3 linked regions of the Homo sapiens genome follow. The protein of the gene in region 3 interacts with the protein of the main gene of each other region in a pairwise test. Each region holds a gene or a part of one and is shown on either strand. Other genes may lie near its edges. The genes, in order: CLIP4, KLHL2 and ZNF114.

Region 1 (7,112 bases), on a different chromosome or scaffold from region 3:
GCGGCCAGAGGTCACAGGGCAGAATACAGCAGAGATGGATGCACACACTCCAAGAGAAACCCAGAGACCTGTGCAGGGTCCTCCTCAACTATTCATCATATGCTTGTGAGGAAATACTTGAAGTAAGGGAAAGAACCATCCATAAGGACTACAGGGATTAGTGCCTATTCTCACAAGGAAGATTGAAAAAGAATCCTCATAATTCACACAGCATTGAGTAGAACAGCAGTCCCCAATCTTTCTGGCACCAGGGGCCGGGGTAGGGGGACCAGTACCAGTCCGTAGCCAGGGGGTTCAGGGCCCCTGGAGTGGAATTCTCAGTAGTAGGGAACAATTAGCCCCAGGCCAAGAATGGCTCCAGACCCACCTAACAAATCAGAAAAGTAGGACCTCAAAGGGTCCAACTATTTCCAAGTAACTAAACTGTATCCCAGAACAAAGTTCAAGAATACTTACAGGAATACAAAAATATCCAGCATCTAACAAGGTAAAATTCACAATGTCTGGCAGCCAATTAAAGATTATCAGGCAAGCAAAGAAAGAAGAAAACATGACCCATAATCAGGGGAATAATAGACCTAGAGTTGACATGGATATTATAATTAACAGAGAAGGACATTAAAACAGTCAATATAACTCTATTCCAAATGTTCAAAGGTGGAGAAGAGACCTGGGCATAAAAAAGAGCCAAAGCAAACTTTAGAGATGAAAACTTCATCTGAAATGAAAACTGCACTGGAAAAAATCAGCAGCTAATTAATTAGACACTGCAGAAGGAAAGATTAATGAACTTGAAGATGCAGTAATATAAACTATCCAAAATAAAGAGAAAAAAATGTTTAAATATAAAATAAATCAGTGAGTTATGGGACAACTTCAAGCAGTCTATAATATACATGCAATTACAGTATCTGAAAACGGGGAGAAGCAGACAAAAAATTTTTTTAAATGATTTCCCAAACTTAATGAAAACTGAAACTCAGATCCAAGCAGCTCAACCAAACCCAAGCACAAGAACATACAGAAAACAATACCTAAGCACATAATAGTAAAATTGCTCAAAATAAAAACTCTTTAAAGCAGCCAAAAAAAAGACATTACATCTAGAGAAACAAAAATGACAGCAGAAACAATGCAAATGGGAAGAGAGCAGAGCAAGATCTTTCAAGTACTGAAAGAAAACTACCAACCTATAATTCTAAACCCAGCAAACACATTTTTCAAAAAAATAAGGTAAATAAAGATGTTTTCAGACATAAAACAGCTGAAAGAATTCATCACTGGCAGACCAGCACCATAAGAAACATTACAGGAAGTGCTTCAGGCGGAAGGAAATGGTATCAGATGGAAATCTGGACCTACACTCACAAAGGAATGAAGAGCACTAGAAATGGTAACTACATGGGTAAATGAGATTTTTTTATATTATTTAAATTTAACAGATAATTCAATGTTTAAGCAAAATATATAATAAGGTATTTTGGTATTTATAATGTATATAATGTGTATTCTGCATGAACTGATTCTGAAGGCATTTCAAAGCAAAAGATTCCAAAAATTGTTATGCAAGAACAGTACATAGTTTCACAGGGTAATCACCTTGAGAGTCAACACTGAGTCACATGCCTCAACTCTGGTTTCTGTGGACTGGTTTCTTTTTGTTTCTTTGTTTTACACTCATTAGTTGGTATTATATAAAAATTCCCTATGGGGGCCTACATGACCCCGCATGACCTGGCCGGTGTCTTACTCTCCAATTCCTTCTCCTCCCACTCTGCCATCAATCACTTTGCTTCTCAGCCACAAAGACCTTCCATTAATTCTTAGGATATACCAAGGTCTTCCCTCAACACTGTGCCTTTAGTTTTCTGTTTTCCTTCCTGGAACACTTCTTCCCAGGCTCTTCTCACAGCCAGCCTCTTCTGATTCTCCGAATGACCACCCCATCTAAAGCAGCTGCCTTGCCCCCATTGTTCTCTATCACAGCACCCTGTTTCTTTCTTCCACAGAATTCATTATGACCTATTTTTGCTTTGTCTATTCATTTGTTTGTTTACTGGTCTTCCCTATAGAAGACCTGTCTTGGTCACTGATATCTCCAGCATCCAGGACAGTCCCTAGCACACAAGAGGCCCTCAATAAATACTTGCTCAATAAATGCAATTATATATGCCGCTTTTCAAGGGGAGACTGACCACAGTGTACCAAGAAAGCAGCTACGATGAAAAGGGTCTAGAAATCCTGACAATGAGAAACTGGTGAAGGAAACAGAAATGTGTAGCCTAAGGAGTTTCAGGCTAAGTTAAAATGTTCAAACTATCTGCAGATACTTAAAGGCTATCCTATAAAGGAATTTGTGCCATGTATCAAACTAGAATCACTTGGCCAAAATTTCAGGGAGACCAATTTTGAGTCAACATACGAAAACAATTTTATTACAACTAAAGCTTTTTAACAATAAAATTAACTATTTTGTTAGTTTCCCACTATTGAAGACATGCAAGAGGTTAAATGGTTATCTGACAGAGATCCTGAAAATATGATGTCTACACAGGGAGGTGAGTGGGGAAAGGTTCATAAGAGTCTACAAAAACCTATAATTCTAAGACTACAATGCTTTTTTTTTTTTTTTTTTTTTTTTGGAGACAAAGTCTCACTCTGTGGCCCAGGCTGGAGTGCAGTGATGCGATCTCAGCTCACTGCAACCTCTGCCTCCTGGTTCAAGTGATTCTCCTGCCTCAGCCTCCTGAGTAGCTGACAATATAGGCGCACACCACCATGCCTGGCTAATTTTTGTATTTTTAGTAGAGACGGGGTTTCAACGTTTAATTCCAGTTATGCAAAATGTCAATATCCATTATTACCTTTCATTCAATGTATTTATTCAACAATCATTGAGCAACTAATAACAAATGACTATATTAGCCTTTTTGAGATAAACAAAAATAAAATGATTGTTCTCCATCCCAAAGCGCTACAATATAGGAAAGAAAATAAGACAATTAGAAGTCAAGATGGAGTGAGACAAGTATCATACCTAAGGTACAATGCACAAGGTTCAAGGTTTCCCCTGCATAACTGATTTTGTTATATCTGAAAATAAGCCCAGTTGATTACTGCAAAACCTGCAGATAACTCCCAAGATCAAGGCACAGGTTTTATATAATACTTCTGACGACTGGTCTAGGTAAGCTGCTAAAGAATCTGAATACAAAAAAAAAAAAAAAGAAACTTGGAGATGAGGAATTACTATACTACAACGAATATGACTAAAAAGACAAATTCTCAGTCCAATAACTTTATATCTACTAATATCTACTAATATGTAAAAATTGTATGATCTCTACCTCCAAAAACAATTTGAAATGGTGAACCAACATTTTACTTGAAAAACTCTAAACTGGAAATTTAACAATTCTATCAAATTTATCTCCTGGTTCCCTTTTATTATGGTTCTGGAGAAATAAGCCTAAATAGATGAGAAGTGGAATGCTTCTAAATTAACATTTTACAGAGGAGATGTAAATGGACCAATTTAAACATTAACCAATCTCATTTCACATTCCAGGGAAGGGTCTCTTACCCTCTTTGCCTAAGTACATGGCTTTTTTAGCAAGTCAGTATATTTAACCAAAATAAATACATCAATAGCAGAAGAATGCTAGATATCTAAGCACCATTGCTTTCTAAAAATAAAGTCCTCTAAATCCATCATGATGCTTAAAATGAACATTTTAACATAATATAAATGCTGACAGCAGAAATAAAGCATTTAGCTTAAGAAGCAGAAAAAGCAATAAGCAATTGTATTTTTGAAAAAGGAAAACTTTAGCAATTTTATGAAAACCATAAAAATGGTTCTAAGAAAGACTATGAGTGCAAAAAAGGCGTAACAGAGAAGTCAAGTTACCAGTTCACAGAAAATAAGCACAGCTACTTCACATACCACAGTCTGAAGGCATTGGTGCTGCAGAAATGGAAAAGATAACTGGGGTATCAGAAGCAGAAAATATAAATGGGTATCTTCCAAACAAAGGATTTCCTTCTAATGGAAAATCTGGAAGGTCCTCTATGGTCATCTTCTAGAAAGCCACCTATAATAAGAAAGAAAAAAAAAGTGTTTCTACTTTATTTGTATGCAACTTAGAATGACTGCCTTCAATAACTGCCTAAAAGTTATTTGACGTCAAATCTGCTGACATTTTCAGTAAGGATCTTTTATGAAAGGGAAAAAATTCCTTTTGGCAAAACTGTTGTTAAAAGGCATACATTGCTTCACACCACCTCTTATACCAGTCGGTAGCACATGTAATCTCTCTAGACAAAGCTCAAAAGGAATATAAAATAGGTGAAAACACTTTAAATGCTGAGCTAATCTAAATGGGTGAAATCCTCCTACTCATGTAACAAACAAGGGCGTATTAACCCTTGTAGATGGATCTTTAACTTCCCATAACACTGGCACAAGTTACATCATTTGTCATCCAATAGCTCATGCCATGTGCTCATCACATGAAGATAATCTACCTTAAAATGTTTCCATTATTTTCTATCCCAGAAAACTTTACTGAAAATTAATCATATCCCTCTTACAAATCTAAGAGTTTACTAAGATTGTTCAACTTAACAAGGTCCGAGGTATGTGAGTTCTATCCTGGCCAAAGATGGAAGCCATGCCTTTTAAAGCACATGGCTTATATTACCTCTTTTTCCCAGAAAACATGAGTGCTTAGAATAAATTTGCTCTAAATTAGACTTTGTACTACACCCTAGCCTACATCTCAGAAATGATGTAGAAAGCAGAGAAACTGCTAGTAAAACCAAACTTATGAAGCTAAAAGCCTTCCAGTTTCTTTTGTATCCGATCTTTACTATCTGAAGTATCATGAATTCCTGTTTTTAAAATGTAAGCAAAACATTATAAAACTAAATGAAAAATGAGTTTAGATTATTTCAGTAGAAAGCACAGAATAAAAATAGGTAATCAATGGCTTGATCTGGTAGTAGACAACACCATACTAGCTACTACTTAATGTGTGCTCTGTTCTACTTAACCAACCCTATATCTAACTCAATTATCCTTACCATCAGTTCCCCACTACAATAAAACAGTCATTTCATTGAGCTCACTGTTGTCTTCCTAACTTGATTCATGTTTTCTTAATACTGGCAGGAACTGGTAAAAAGTAGGAGGCTTTCTTTTTCCTCAAAAATCGTATGCTTATATGGATATAGATGTTATATATTAGGTAACCTAATCCAGTTGTTACTATTTTAAGGTATTCACATTTTCTTGGATGCTAAAATTACTTACCACCAAATACTTAGAAGCATTTTGACATTAACCTTGCCACATAAATAGGAAAATGACAAGTTCATGGAATTAGTGTTATAGAGCAGCGGTGATCTTCCTCAAATACTATCAATTCCAAACAGTAATGAGTATTTATTAAGGAACCACTATATACAAGACACTATTCTAGATGTTTCAGCAAATACAAAAATGAGTTAACAGATGGTCCATGCTTCTTAGGTAGTTTACAATCTATTAAGGTGAATAAAATACCACTAATAACTATAGATTATGAGGCAGAATGGGATCTGCTCCATCACATAAGTACCAGGAACATTTGCAGTTGGAGCTTCTAAGAATCATAAATGGTGAAGAAGGTATCATCTGTGATGAGTCTTGAATGATGAATAGGTATCAATATAAAAGGGGATCCCATTAAAAGAACAGTAGGCTGGAACTTGGGATATGACTAGGAAAACAGTCAGAGGTGAGGCTGTAAGGGCTTTTTAGGGCTGTACTGAGGAGCAAATACCTCATCAAAGACCAAACCACTTACTTTCATGAGCACTGGGAAACTACTGATTTTTTTAAAGAGAGTAACATGATTAAAGCTGTTTTAGGAAAATTAATCTGACTATAATCACGGTTTGGGACTCAGACATGTTTTTATACTCTTAATTCTTCAGCAAAAAGATTCAGTGGATATCTGTCTGAGTCGGTTAAGAGGAGTCACCACATGACTTCCCTTTCAAAGGGTGGAGTCTCCCATTCAAAAAAAAAAATTTTAAGTGATCCCCAGAGCACCTTTCATTTCCTTGTAAACTGTTGAGATCCTCAAAGATACGAACTCTATCGTACACAACTAGCAGTCACCACAGGAGCTAGAATAGTGTGTTACACATATTTAACTAATATTCAAAGCTTAGATTCAAAGTGGAAAGAGGATTCATGCAATCAGATGTAACCAGCTTCATTCTTTTACATATTAGATACTTCAAGTCCAGAAGAAGCTACAATATTACCTGACCAATGCAGTGAACATTCTTTGTATTTTGTCTTTGTTGCGTTTTTCTCTAGTTACATTTCCTTATTTTCGTGAAAAACTTAACATTCTACCTTTTGTCCTCCCAAAGGAAACTATGTACCCCTATAAACTTCCTTATAGTCTCAGATTCATTTCCTAAAAGCAATTCCTGGATCTGAAGACCTACAACACCTGGACTCTTGGTCAAATGTCTAAGTATACTGATCTGAACTGAGTACACACTTTCATTCCAAATCCAACTATGGTTAACTGGTGATAACTGATTATAAAGTAAGCCTCAGGTTAAAAATATATATATATATATTGGCCCTGCCAGGCATGGTGGCTCACACCTGTAATCCCAGCACTTTCGGAGGCCATGGCAGGTGGATCACCCAAGGTCAGGCATTCGAGACCAGCCTGACCAACATGGCAAAACCCCATCTCTACTAAAAATACAAAAAATTCGCTGGGCATGGTGGAGGGCACCTGTAATCCCAGCTACTCAGGAGGCTGAGGCAGAAGAATCGCTTGAACCTGGGAGGCAGAGATTGCGGTAAGCCGAGATCCCGCCACTGCAGTCCAGCCTGGGCAAGAAGAGCGAAACTCCATCTCAAAAAAAAAAAAAAAAAATTGGCACTAATCAACTGTCTACAGAACAGGTGCCTCTGATACTAACAATAGCTAGAATCAAATTCCCCAAACTCTGATTTCTATAGGAATTTCACCCTACTCATCACTCCAAGTTAGCTGTTAGCAAAAGCATCTTACATAACGTGGCTCAAATACCTTGTG
Region 2 (7,112 bases), on a different chromosome or scaffold from region 3:
AATTTATTATATTCATGTAATCAAAGTTATTTTATAAAAGCAAACAGTGTATCCCTCAACTAGTTTGTATACTTACGTAGATTTTAATATCTGTTCAAAGATTTTCAGTTCCTGGTATACAGATTTTTAGAAGAAATAAAGATAAAATTTAATTTTACAAGAACACACATTACTTCATCCTCCTTCACAAAATAATCTGTAGTCATTCAAGGTTGATAAGAACTAGTCTTTATGAAAGCAACTGTTGTCTAAAGACTACAGATTAAGTCCTGCAGTCCAAGTTTCTTATGAAAATTCAGTCAGCTGCTGCTCATTGCAGAAAAAGCCTACACGGTGCTTCTACCAAAAATAATCTTCAGTATCTGAGGCCTATAAAGGCAGACGATCGTATCTTCTGCTGAGACTTAAAGTGCAGCTACAAGTGGAGAAGTGCTAGATTCTCAGTCACTTCACAAATACTTGTTGAAGGCTGTTTCTCATGTATAAATATGCTGAAAATGTCCTTCAGGCTCATAATGGTTTATCAATAACTGTGACCCCTGAGCAAAGAAATGAAGAGAGAAAAAAGAAGTCACAGGCAGCACTCTGTATCTCTGAGAAAACACTCAATTCTTCATTATAATACGAAGGCAGGAGGAACTGTACAAATCATGTTTCAGAATCTCTTTCTTAAACTTTAGTAGTATTATCATTTGAATCTAAATGACAGTGAAAACTCTGTTTAGTTATGGGCTAGTTAAATATAAGACTATTTAATCCAGAACTAGTCTTTTCCTCTTTGTAGTTACAATTTGGAAAATATACTCAAAAGGGAACACAGAAACTTTTGAGCATGATGGATATGTTCATTATCTTGATTGTGGTGATGGTTTCATGGGTATATACTCTGTCAAAAGTAATAAAATTATATAGTTTAAATATACAGTTGACCCTTGAACCGACATGGGGGTCAGGGGTGCTGACCCTCCACGCAGTCAAAAACCCATGTATAATTTTTTACTCCCGCATAATTTAATTACTAATAGCTTACAGTTGACCAAACGCCTTACTGATACAGTCAATTAACACATATTTTACATGTAATATATGTTATGTATGTCATAACATGTTATGTGTTATATATTGTATTCTTAAAGTAAGCTACAGAAAAGGAAATGTTATTTAAAAAGTCATAAGGAAGAGGAACTATATTTACTATTCATTAAGGGGAAGTGGATCATCATCAAGGTCTTCATCCTTGTCTCTTCACATTGAGCAGGCTGAGGAGGAGGAGAAAGAGGAGAGGTTGGTCTTGTTGTTTCAGGGGTGGCAGAGGCAGAAGAGGTGGAGGAGGTGGAAGGGAAGGCAGGGGAAACAGGAGAGGCAGACACACTTGGTGCAACTTTAAGGAAATACACTGTTAATTCCTGTCTGACTTTTTTGTTTTTTTCATTTCTCTAAAAATGTTTCCACATAATACCAATCGTCTTTCCACTACTTTCTTCAGTTACAGTGCACATATCATAGAAGGGCCCATTTCATAAAGTAAGTCATAAACAGTCTTGAATAACCAAACCCTTTTGCCAGACTGTCTAATGTCAATTTGTTTTCTGACATTGCTTCTACATCTTCTTCATTGTCTGGCAGTGGTTAAGAAGCACTCATCTCCGTCGAGTCATGTTCTGTTAATTTCTCTGGTTTGGTATCTATTAGCTCTTGAATTTCTCCAAGATCCATACCTTGAAACCCTTCACCATCAACCTTTATAGCCACATCCATGATCTCTTTCATGATTTCTTTGACTGGCTCTGTCATAACTCCTGTGAAGTCATACACAACATCTGAACACAGTTTTTTTCCAGCAGGAATTTATTGTTTTGGGTTTGATGACTTTCATAGCTTTTTCTATAACAATGATATATTCAATGGTGTAATCCATCCAGACTTTCATGTTTTCTCTGTTGAGATTCTCTTCCATAGCACTGGCAATTTTTTCCATAGAGTGCCATGTATAATGAAACTTTAAGGTTCCTATGGTCACTGATCTAGAGGCTGAATTAGATACATTGTGTTTAGGGGCAAGTAGACCACTTCTATGCCTTTGGTGTTGAACTCATGGGGTTCTGGGTGGCCAAGGGCACTGTCCAATATCAAAATAAAAAGCAGTCCCTTACTGGCATGGTACTTCCTGAACCTGAAGCATAGATGGAACCAGTCCGGGAAAAGATTTCTTGTCTAGGCCTTCTTGTTATACAGTCAAAAGACTGGCAGCTGGTATTTATATTTTCCCTTCAAGGATTGGGGGTTAGCAACTTTTTAGATAAGAGCAGTCCAAATCATAAACCCAACTGCATTTGCACAAAATAGTAGAGTTAGCTTATCCCTTTCTGCCTTAAATTCTGGTGCTTGCTTATCTTCCTAATAAATGTCCCTGGTGGCACATTTGTCTGCATTAAAAACTTGTTCAGGCAGATATCCATTCTCCTCAACAACTTTCTTCATGGCATCTGGGAGCTCATCTGCTGGCCCCTTGGTTGACAGAAGTGTTCTCCTGTTATCTTGACATTTTTTGAGCCAAACCCCTTTCCAAAATTATCAAGTCATCCTTTGCTTGAGTAGGCTGAGGAAATTCTCCAGCTTTAGATCCTTCACCTTCCTTTTGCTTCAGGTTGTCACATAATGACTTTCCTTTTTCTCAAATCATATTAGAGTTGACAGGTATGCCTTTCTTACAGCAATCCTGCACCCACCAAAAACCAAAACCAAAAAGTCAAAAATAATAAAAATAATAAAAATTTAAAAATTAGCCAGGTGTGGTGGCACATCCCTGTAATCCCAGCTACTCAGGAAGCTGAGGCATGAGAATCGTTTGAATCTGGGAGGCGGAGGTTGCAGTGATCTGAGATCACGCTGTTGCACTCCAGCCTGGGCGACAAGAGTGAGATTCTGTCTCAAAAACAAAAATCCTGCACCCACATAAAAGCTGCATGTTCAACACAAGATAAAAAGGGATTTCACAAAAAGTGTGAAGTTTTCAAAACTGCTGGGATGGCTGCAGGGACGGCTTCATGAATTTCCTTTTTCCTTTTTACAATGATCCCTACCCTGGATTCATTTATTTTGAAATGGTGGGCAAGTGCAGCAGCAGACCTCAATCCATGGTATATCTCAAGCAATTCAGCTTTTTCTTGTAATGTCATGACTCTTCTCTGCTTCGTTGAAGCACTTCCTAGCACCATCACCGGTGGCACTTTGTATGGGTCCCATGGTATTATTCAAGGTTTATGATATTGCAGTAAACATGATGAAAAATAAGGCAGAACCATGAGAGAGAACTTTTTACTGAGATACGCATCGCTGAAGAGACAAACTGCTCTTTCAAAGGTAATTAGCCCCCCACAGCTTTTTAAGTGGATACTCACAACAGCTGAGCTCACCAATACAGCAACAGGAGACGGCTATAAAATTATTATAGTAGTACAGTAACATACTACAGTTAATTTCATGCAGTTATGATTTAATATTGTATCTTTGTGGTTTGTTCACATTTCTCTGGACTGTGAATGACACCATCTATGGTTTGTGGGTGTTTGTTCCCATAAGAGTTTGTGTGCATATGTTTTGATAAATTTTAACTTTTTGTAACAGATTTGTAGATATTTTGTAGTAAATGATAAAACAGACTAGTATCTACGTATATTTTATGTGTTCATAATCTTAAACTTAATTTTTTCAATATTTCTAGGTTATGCAGTGCATCTGAGTTTTTTCAAACTGTTACCAATCTCCAAAAAAATTTTTCCAACATAATTATTGAAAAAAATCCACATGTAAGTGGACATACACAGTTCAAACCTGTGTTGTCCAAGGGTCAACTGTACGCTATGTATTCTGTCAGTTTATACCTCAATGAAGTTGTTTTAAAAATTCATCTAATATTCACCCATGTTATACTGGAATTCTACTGTACATAGTTCTTCTCAGTACTGTTTTGAATGATACATAAGCAACAGTGATGGTTAATGAGCTTAAACATTTTCTTCCTCCACTATTGGATCAATTTTGTTACAGAAACATTATACTATTAAAAGCAAGATAAATATAATTGAAATAAATAACATAAAGACTCACCATAATATTTATTAAAATTAACATTTATCTTACTAAGAGAATGGACCAAAAAATCACATTTTATAACTCAACCAGTACTATGCTTAAGAAAGAAAAATTATTCCACAGCCTCACTATAATACTATCTCATGGAGCCACACCATGGGGAGATGTAGGAATCCTATCCTATTTCTTGGACATCTCAGGAATTAAAGCCTTGCCACATATGAATTCTTCTCCTCTGCATACAGATTTTAGCTACATTAAATTTTATTATATGATTTTGTATATCAAAGATTTGGGATTTTGAATACAAATGACTGTAGAATGACAAAAGTATACTGGTGCTTTATTTCAGAATATACACAGCCAATGTTAATCATCTTAAGAATAAGATATAAACTATACCTTGAGAAAAGACTTTATTCTTATAACAGAAAAACTTCGTTAATATAACATTCATAATGAGGTCATCTTTTTGTACGGAAATTGACTTTAGAGACAACTGTTACCTGCATAACTTCTCCCTGTGCTCATACACGATGACACAACTGTCCATTTATCGGTTGTTGGGTTATAATATTCTACTGACGCCAAGTTACAGGAACCATCATCCCCTCCAACAACATATAACAGACCATTAACTGCACAAACTCCTTTAAAAAATTACAGAGAGAAAACAATTATTTAAAAAATTGGGATGAATATGAGTATCACTGTACATGTTTAGTGAGGTAATCCAGAGACACTAATTTCTTTGAAAGGAGGCAAGAAGAGAAAATAGTGAGCATGAAAAGAATTCGTTTTATATTAGGATAGCCAGGCACCATGGCTCACGCCTGTAATCCCAGCACTTTGGAAGGCCAAGGTGGGCAGATCACTTGAAGTCAGGAGTTCGAGATGAGCCTGGGCAACATGGCAAAACCCCATCTCTACTAAAAATACAAAAATCAGCCAGGCATGGGGGAGTGTGCCTGTGGTCCCAGCTACTCCAAGAGGCTGAAGCCGGAGAATCACTTGAACCCAGGGAGGCAGAGGCTACAGAGAGCCAAGACCACACCACTGCTCTCCAGCCTGGGCAACAGAGTGAGACTCTGTCTCCAAAAAAAAAAAAAAGAATTCTTTCTATATTAGGAGACCATAATACCACTTCTAAGCTCCTACTGAGTGTCATTTATGCAGTAGTTACTTTATATATGCATTATTCTACCTAATTTTCACAACATTATAGGTTAGAAACTATTTTGACCCTCATTTTTTTTTTTTTAATAAAAAGTCAAAGTCAGCTACTTAGGGAATCTTAAGGAAGAAAATATATGTTAGTAGAAGGTAAAAATATTCTTAATTTTAATTATCACACTGAATGGTTAGCTATTTTATCTCCCTTTAAAGAGAACAATATTATTTATCTATTAAAATAACTCTTTTCTTTGCAAAAATTCAAAACATCTAGAAAAGTATTATAAGAAAAAAAGATGACCTCCAACCTTATGTCTCTTAGAATAATGACCATTAAAATTTTGATCTCTACTCTGGCTAACTTTTCTCCATGCATATATACTCAGACACTTTCTTTTTTAACCCCAAAGTAGCTCACACTACACATGCTACTTTATTAAATAACTTACCCACCCTGGCCAACCAACCTACCTTGGACATTTCCTCAAGTTAATAAATATAAATGTAATTTTTATGTATGACAGTTTATTTAATCATTTTTTTACTGATGGATATTTAAGTAATTTTGATTTTTTTGCTGTTACCAATGATGTTGCAATGAACAAAGATCCCCTGAACAGTGTTTTGAATACTTGAGCAATTTTTCTTAATATAAATTATTAGAAGGAAAACTGCTGAGTCTAATGGTAAATGCTTTTAAAAAGCTATTTCAATGTAATTTTTTAAAAGTACATTTAATTTCTTATAAAAAGTTCAGTGCTACTATGAACTTATACTAGAGGGCATCAAAGAATCCCGAATAATGCTGCCCAAATCTACAAAACTTTGTAGGAAAAAAACTCATACCATTTTAAAGTTGTTCAAATACTTAAAAGCAAGAATCAAATGCTGCTGCCACACAAGCTCCACACAGTAGTTACATGTGTATGCAACACTGTATTTCAGCCTATTGATGGACAACATAGGACTGTGAGAGAAAAAATGATCTCAAAAATGGCCCTGCTATGATGGAAGGCATGAACAAGGAGACTATATTGTTCTAAAGAGTTTTCCCAATCATATCTATGAGGGGCTCACAGATTAAAGAGCATCCCACTGCAGAAAGGGAGGTTGGTCCATACATCCATTTGAATATCTTAGCTATACATTCAGAAGACATCAATTTTACTAACCCACTAACTCACAACACCAGATTCCTTTTAGGCGATAGGAGCCAAATCACTTTGCCAAAAGGATGCACCTTCCTGCAGTGTTTGATGGTTCCAGTTTATTCAGTTTACTTCAACACAATCAAATTCATATTGAGAACCTATTACAGATGTGCTAGGTATTAAAGGTCTATATATAATCATCTAATTCAAATTTATTTCATTTTTACTCCACTCTTGGTGTCATAATTTACCATACTTATGAAAACTTTTGAAATCTGGCTTGTAAGCTGCTTGCTATTTCAAATTTATATGGATGCTTTCACCTCTCCCCGCTTAACATTGAATACATGTCCTCCACTCTTTGCCAGCTTAGTTCTTTCTTTCCAATAATTTAGGTGCTTGGATGAGGTCCTTAGCCTAGGTTATTAAAAAGGAAGAGCTGAACAGATCTTATCAGAAGTTTGTTTCAGATTATCAGGAATATGGAATGAGGGTGAGATTTTAAAATACTCTTATGAACTTAAATAATTTTAAAATATATGCTCAATTGGATTATACTGTATCTTGTAAATTATAGAAGTAAATAATTCAAATTTTGTTATTTGCATAGAAAATAAACATCATTGATTGAGAAGGAAAAACAAACTGAAAAGTAAGCTTTCAGATTTCTCTCTCTTCCTGATTATCAAATAA
Region 3 (7,112 bases):
CCCACCAAAGACACTTTCAGCTCCTTTCTTAGTGTGCTTTGCAGCAGAACGTGAAGCCCACTGGCAGCCAGGATGAGGTGTGGAAAGGACCAGTCAGTACTGGGGTGGGGGTGGTCCCAGGAGAATCCCCAGGGCAGCATCTCTCTCCAAGCAGAGGTGCAGAGACCTAGGGCAGCACGGCTGGCGGGGGGCCCTGCCTGGCTCCATGTGCTTTACCTGACTCCCAGCCACAGGCAGAGGCACATTGACTCGTGGGAACGACAACACGCTTCTGGGAGAGGGTGAGCTGCCAACTTACCTGGGACATATTTGTCACCAACGTGACGGCCAGTCCTGGCTTCCCCGTGTTTCCTTCAAGGAGGCAGGTGAGGCAGAGCTTGGGAGAAGAATGGAGCTATGAGAATCCAGGCACCCTGCCTTCCCCACACTCGTATGTGGATCCTGCCTGACATTAATCTCAGCATATAAATGCACGTGTGCACACACTTCCCCACCACAGCCCACAACCCCCACCCCCTCTACACCCACCCACCCACACACCCACACACCCCCATCCCCTCACTCCAACCCCCTTACGCCCACCCACCCACACACCCCATCCCCCCACCCACACACACACTCACACACACACCCACACACCCCCATCCCCCCACCCCCGCCCCCCACACAGACACCCACACACACACCTATATTTTAATTTAATTTTTTAGAGACAGAGACTTGTCCTGTTGCCCAGGCTGGAGTGCAGTAGTGCAATCATGGCTCACTACAGCCTCAAACTTCTGGGCTCAAGTGATCCTCCTGCCTCAGCCTCCTGAGTAGCTGAAGGTACAGGCATGGGCCCCCATGCCTCCTAATTTTTCATATTTATTTTCATAGAGATGGGGTCTCACTATGTTGCCTAGGCTGGTCTCAAATTCCTGGCCTCAAGCAGCATTTTTTTTTAATCGAGGTGAAATTTGCATATCATGAAGTTAACCATTTTAAGTGAACAATGCAGTGGCATTTAGTGCATTTGCAATGTTGTACAAACGTCACCTCTACCTAGTTCCAAATACTTTTCATCACCGCAAAATAAAACCCCATCCCCCTTAGCAGTCACTTCCCATTCTCCCCTTCACCCAGCTGCTGGCAGCCGCTAATCTAATTGCAATTTTTTTTTTTGAGACGGAGTCTCACTCTGTTGCCCAGGCTGGAGTGCAGTAGCACGATCTCAGCTCACTGCAGCTTCCGCCTCCCTGGTTCAAGTGATTCTCCTGTCTCAGCCTCCCGATTAGATGCCATTACAGGTGCCTGCCATCACACCTGGCTAATTTTTTGTACTTTTAGTAGAGATGGGATTTCGCCATGCTGGCCAGGCTGGTCTCGAACTCCTGACCTCAAGTGATCCGCCCGCCTCGCCCTCCCAAAGTGCTGGAATTAGGGGTGTGAGCACCGCACCTGGCCCATAGCGGTATTCATTACAGCCCAAAGTAGAGACAACCCAATACTGATCAATGCATGAACAAAGAAAGCAAACGTGGTCTATCCGCACCATGGAATATTACCCAGCCATAAAACGGACTGAGGCACTGACACACACTACAACCCAGTGAGCTCTGAAAACAGGATGCTGAGTGAACGAAGCCAGACACAAAAGACCACAGTGTATGACCCCATTGAAAATGAAATGTCCAGAATAGGCGAATCTATAGAGACAGAAAGCAGATCAGAGGTTGTCCAGGGCTGGGGGAGATGAGGGACTGGGAGATGACCACTGAAGGATACAGGGCTTCTTTCAGGGGTGATGGAAATGTTCTAAATTTGAGGGACGTACACGTCTGTGAATATACTAAAAGCCATTGAATTGCACCCTTTAAGAAGGTGAATTGGGCCGGGCGCGTTGGCTCAAGCCTGTAATCCCAAGACTCTGGGAGGCCGAGGCAGGTGGATCACTTGAGGTCAGGAGTTTGAGACCATCCTGGCCAACATGGCGAAACCCTGTCTCTACTAAAAATACAAAAATTAACCGGGCGTGGTGGCGCACACCTGTAATCCCAGCTACTTGGGAGGCTGAAGGCAGGAGAATCACTTGAATCTGGGAGGTGGAGGTTGCAGTGAGCTGAGATCGCACCACTGCACACCCCAGCATGGGCAACAGAGCGAGACTCTGTCTCAAAAAAAAAAATTTCAAATATAAGATGAAAAGTGTTCATGTTACTGGGAAGTCAGATTTTTAGTGTAAGAGGAAAAAGTTTCAAATATAAGATGAAAAGGCTTCATATCGTCACGAACACACACACACACACACACACACACACACACACACACACCCAATGCCTCCCTGGTCAGTCTATTCATAGAAAATGCTTAGAAGAATTAAGAAGCAGGAGGCAATGAACACCCTCGGAAACATGGCTGATCTGGGAACAGAAAATTCCCAGTGTGAGCCTTGCGGTGCCAGATGGCAGGGGAGCTGCCCTAGACCGCGTTAGGAGGATGCACAGCGGCTGGAAACGTCTCCCAGCGGCCGGATTTGAACTACAAAGTGAATCATTGCAATTGATGGAAACACACTGAACACTAAAAATACCTGCGCTCATAATGATACCCAGACAGAGAAAACCAGAGGGGGAAAAAAACACAAGCCTTGGTTAATAAAGAGGAAAAATTAAGCCTTTACTTTGCCTTTCCAATAAGAAAAGAAACGGAATAGCCTTACGGATGACGGAAAACTACAGAATTCCAGCTACATATTCATTTTTTTATTTTTATTTTTTGACACAAGGTCTCATTCTGTCATCCAGGTTGGAGTGCAGTGGGGAGATCTCGGCTCACAGCAGCCTCTGCCTCCTGAGTTCAAGTGATTCTCCTGCCTCAGCTTCCCAAGTAGCTGGGACCACAAGCGCCTGCCACCACGCCCAGCTAATATAACAAAAATATATATATTAAAAAAAATTTTTTTTTGAGACAGGGTCTCATTCTGTCGCCCAGGCCGGAGTGCAGTGGCACGATCTCAGCTCGCTGCAACTTCCACCTCCTGGGTTCAAGCAATTCTCCTGCCTCAGCAGCCTCCTGAGTAGCTGAGATTACAGGCTTGGGCCACCACGCCCAGCTAATTTTTGTATTTTTAGTAGAGACGGGGTTTCACTATGTTGGCCAGGCTTGTCTCAACTTCTGACCTCAGGTGATCCGCCTGCCTCGACCTCTCAAAGTGCTGGGATTACAGGCGTGAGCCACCACGCCCAGTCCCAGCTACATGTTTAGTTGGGACAATTGAATATTTTTAAAAATCACCATTTTGGGCTGGGCTGGGTGGTTCACACCTATAATCCCAGCATGTTGGGAGGCTGAGGCAGGAGGATCACTTGAGCCCAGGATTTTGATACCACCCTGGGCAACATAGCGAGGCCCCATCTCTACAAAAAATTTAAAAATTAGGTGGGCACGCTGGCGTGCGCCTCTAGTCTCAGCTACTCAGGAGGTTGTGGGGTGGGAAGATCATTTGAGCCCAGGAGGTTGATGCTGCAGTGAACTATGATTGCACTACTGCACTCCAACTTGGGTGACAGAATGAGGCCCTATCTCAACAAAAAAAAATCATCATTTTGCAACCTTAATAAAACAACTGATTCAGGAAATAAGACACGTCGGTGGACACAGAAAGGGGAGGCAGTCATTAGCAGGGTACGGAGGCATCACTCAGGACTTGCTGGGCGTAAAGGAATGCAACTTTCAGAGGTAAGGCTCTGCAGGTGCAGTGGCCTAAGGCTGTAATCCCAGTATTCTGGGAGGCTGAGGCAGGCAGATCACCTGAGGTAGGGAGTTTGAGACCAGCCTGACCAACATGGAGAAACCCCGTCTCTACTAAAAATACAAAATTAGCCGGGTGTGGTGGCACACGCCTGTAATCCCAGCTACTCGGGAGGCTGAAGCAGGAGAATCACTTGAACCTGGGAGGCGGAGGTTGCGGTGAGCCGAGATTGCACCACTGCACTCCAGCCTGGGCAACAAGAGCGAAACTCCATCTCAAAAAAAAAAAAAAAAAAAAAAGAGGTAAGAGGCTCTCTCACCTCCAGAAACTACCCCACCAATGTTAGCTTGACTTGTACAGGGACAAACAGCCATTATAGCTTTTTTTTTTTTGAGATGGAGTCTCACTCTGTCACCCGGGCTGGAGTGCAGTGGTGCGATCTCAGCTCACTGCAAGCTCTGCCTCCCGGGTTCACCCCATTCTCCTGCCTCAGCCTCCCCAGTAGCTGGGACTACAGGCGCCCGCCACTGCGCCCTGCTAATTTTTTGTATTTTTAGTAGAGACGGGGTTTCACCGTGGTCTCGATCTCCTGACCTCGTGATCTGCCTGCCTCGGCCTCCCAAAGGGCTGGGATTACAGGAGTGAGCCACCGCGCCCGGCAACAAACAGCCATTATAGTTACACTGATGTGATGAACACACCACCTACGATGTATCTTTCATTTTTATTTTGTTTAAATTTTTCTTTGTTATTATATATGTTTCAAGACAAGGTCTCGCTCTATCACCCAGGCTGGAGTGCAGTGGCACTAGCTTGGCTCACTGCAACCTCTGCTTTCTGGGTTCAAGAGATTCTCCTGTCTTAGCCTCCCAAGTAGCTGGGAGTACAGGCGACCACCACCACGCCTGGCTATTTTGTGTGTGTGTGTGTGTGTGTGTGTGTGTGTGTGTGTGTTTTAGTAGAGACAGGACTTCATCATGTTGGCCAGGCTGGTCTTGAACTCCTGACCTCAGGCGATCATCCTGCCTCAGCCTCCCAAAGTGCTGGGATTAAAGCCACGAAGCCTGACCAACCTAGGATGTTTCTGTCTCCCTCCCTCCCTCCCTTCCTCTCTCTTTTTCCCTCCCTCCCTCCCTCCCTTCCTTCCTTCCCTCTCTCTTTCTCTCTTCCTCTCTCTTTTTCTCTCTCTCTTTCTCTCTTCCTCTCTCTCTTTCTCTCTTTCTTTCTTTTTTGAGACAGGGTCTCACTCTGCTGCCCTGGCTGGAGTGCAGTGGTGTGATCAGAGCTCACTGTAGCCTTGACCTCCTGGGGTCAAGCAGTCCTCCCACCTCAGCCTCCCAAAGTGCTGGGATCACAGGCGTGAGTCACCGTGCCTGGCCAGGTCTAACTTTCAACGACACAAGGAACAACCACACAAATGCACAGGCGTGGACGTTCTGCCATTCTGACTACCCAGGGACTCCAACTAGTAAATGTCATGAACAAAGGGAGGCAAGTTCGAGGGTGTGAGCCCTGGAAGAGAAACGCACACAATGTGTTTGCATCCTGCCTAAAGAAACATAACTCTAGGCCAGGCGTGGTGGCTCACGCCTGTAATCCCAGCACTTTGGGAGGCCGAGGCGGGCAGATCACCTGAGGTTGGGAGTTCGAGGTCAGCCTGACCAACATGGAGAAACCCCATCACTACTAAAAATGCAAAATTAGCCCGGCATGGTGGCACATGCCTGTAATCCCAGCTACTAGAGAGGTTGAGGCAGGAGAATTACTTGAACCTGGAAGGCAGAGGTTGCGGTGAGACGAGATTGCACCACTGCACTCCAGCCTGGATAACAAGAGAAAAACTCTGTCTCAAAAAAAAAAAAAAAAATATATATATATATATATATATATAAAAGTTTTTTTCTATTAAAACAAAACAAAAACAAACCCCCAAAACTCTTCCTGCTCCAAATGTGACATCTGATGACCGTTTAATGACTGTGGTCAACTTAAATAGTATAAGATGAGTCATTTGTTCATAAAATGTTAGAATGCCATAAAATCTACAACTTACATGATATTTGGAAGAAACTTGATGGCAAGTTCCCTCAATTTGAGGACAAATCTAAACGTTTACATGACACTGTCAGCAATGAATTGCGGACTCAAAACTTTTCTAAACCATTAATAATTTAAAAATTAAATTAATCATATGAGAAAAAGCTGAATTTATATATAGACACTCACACATAAATATATGTGTGTATATATTTATATATATGTGTGTGTGTATGCATTTATATATATACATGTATAAAAATATATATACATATATATTGGCCAGGCACGGTGGCTCACGCCTGTAATCCCAGCACCTTGGGAGGCCGAGGTGGGCGGATCACGAGGTCAAGAGATCAAGATCATCCCGGCTAACACGGTGAAACCCCGTCTCTACTAAAAATACAAAAAATTAGCCGGGCGTGGTGGCGGGCGCCTGTAGTCCCAGCTACTCGGGAGCCTGAGGCAGGAGAATGGCGAGAACCCGGGAGGAGGAGCTTGCAGTGAGCCGAGATAACGCCACTGCACTCCAGCCTGGGCGACAGAGCGAGACTCCGTCTCAAAAAAAAAAAAAAAAAAGAAAAGCCCCACTGTTGCCTGGGGGATCCAAGTCACTTTGACACAGAAGCAAGCCTGTGCAACTCAGGGGCTGAGCTGTAAATAAGAGTTTTTGAGACACAACATTCCACGTCTATCTTGACCTTATAGTTCCCAAGGAAACAGCCACACCTGATGATAACCCCATTACACGCATCTCAGCTGTAAGCCTACCTAAGAAGATAAAACCGCCTATTTCAATTTAAGTTTCCCTGAATTCCGTCCTTTCCCCAATACAATTGGAGCGCCGGTTCTGACCCTAGTAACCTCAGACACATCAGCTCAGGACAGTAGTTTAAAAAAAAAAAAAACAGAAAAGAAAAGAAAAAGAAAAACAACGCATCATTGTGAGTCAGCTCAGGTGAGCAGGCTGAGGTTGGCTTTTGCCTGATTGTCCATGACGAAGATATACCTGGCTGATGAAACACATTCCCACCTTTGCCCTGAGTTCCAGTAAATCAGACCTCACCGGAGCGGATTAGTGATAAAAATGCATCTTGTTCCGACCGTGGGGTTTGATCCTGACACCTTCACACCACTCTCCTTGCAGCTTGTCCTTTTTATATATTTCCTCTGCTGAGGTCTCAGTTCCCATAAAAGACCATGTTCAGCACACGGAACTCAAACCCTCAAAGCTCTTTATCTGGCCAGGCGCTGTGGCTCACGCCTGTAATCCCAGCCCTTTGGGAGGCCGAGGCGGGCAGATCACGAGGTCAGGAGCTCGAGACCATCCTGGCTAACGCGG

The links.
Region 1: the proteins of ZNF114 (region 3) and CLIP4 interact in binary tests that used the Homo sapiens proteins (3 or more experiments, as listed by UniProt).
Region 2: the proteins of ZNF114 (region 3) and KLHL2 interact in binary tests that used the Homo sapiens proteins (3 or more experiments, as listed by UniProt).

The regions. Positions count from the first base shown.
Region 1 is NC_000002.12:29,118,356-29,125,467, reverse strand, and holds part of CLIP4 (CAP-Gly domain-containing linker protein 4), read right to left. Parts: exon of another isoform or gene 7,107-7,112; intron 4,095-7,106; 5' UTR 4,080-4,094; coding exon 3,947-4,079; intron 1-3,946.
Region 2 is NC_000004.12:165,315,459-165,322,570, reverse strand, and holds part of KLHL2 (kelch-like protein 2), read right to left. Parts: intron 4,746-7,112; coding exon 4,602-4,745; intron 1,260-4,601; coding exon of another isoform or gene 1,246-1,259; exon of another isoform or gene 1,220-1,245; intron 540-1,219; coding exon 511-539; 3' UTR 1-510. UniProt on the Homo sapiens protein: Substrate-specific adapter of a BCR (BTB-CUL3-RBX1) E3 ubiquitin ligase complex that mediates the ubiquitination of target proteins, such as NPTXR, WNK1, WNK3 and WNK4, leading most often to their proteasomal degradation.
Region 3 is NC_000019.10:48,272,995-48,280,106, reverse strand, and holds part of ZNF114 (zinc finger protein 114), read right to left. Parts: intron 5,556-7,112; exon of another isoform or gene 5,458-5,555; intron 377-5,457; 5' UTR 308-376; coding exon 299-307; intron 1-298. UniProt on the Homo sapiens protein: May be involved in transcriptional regulation.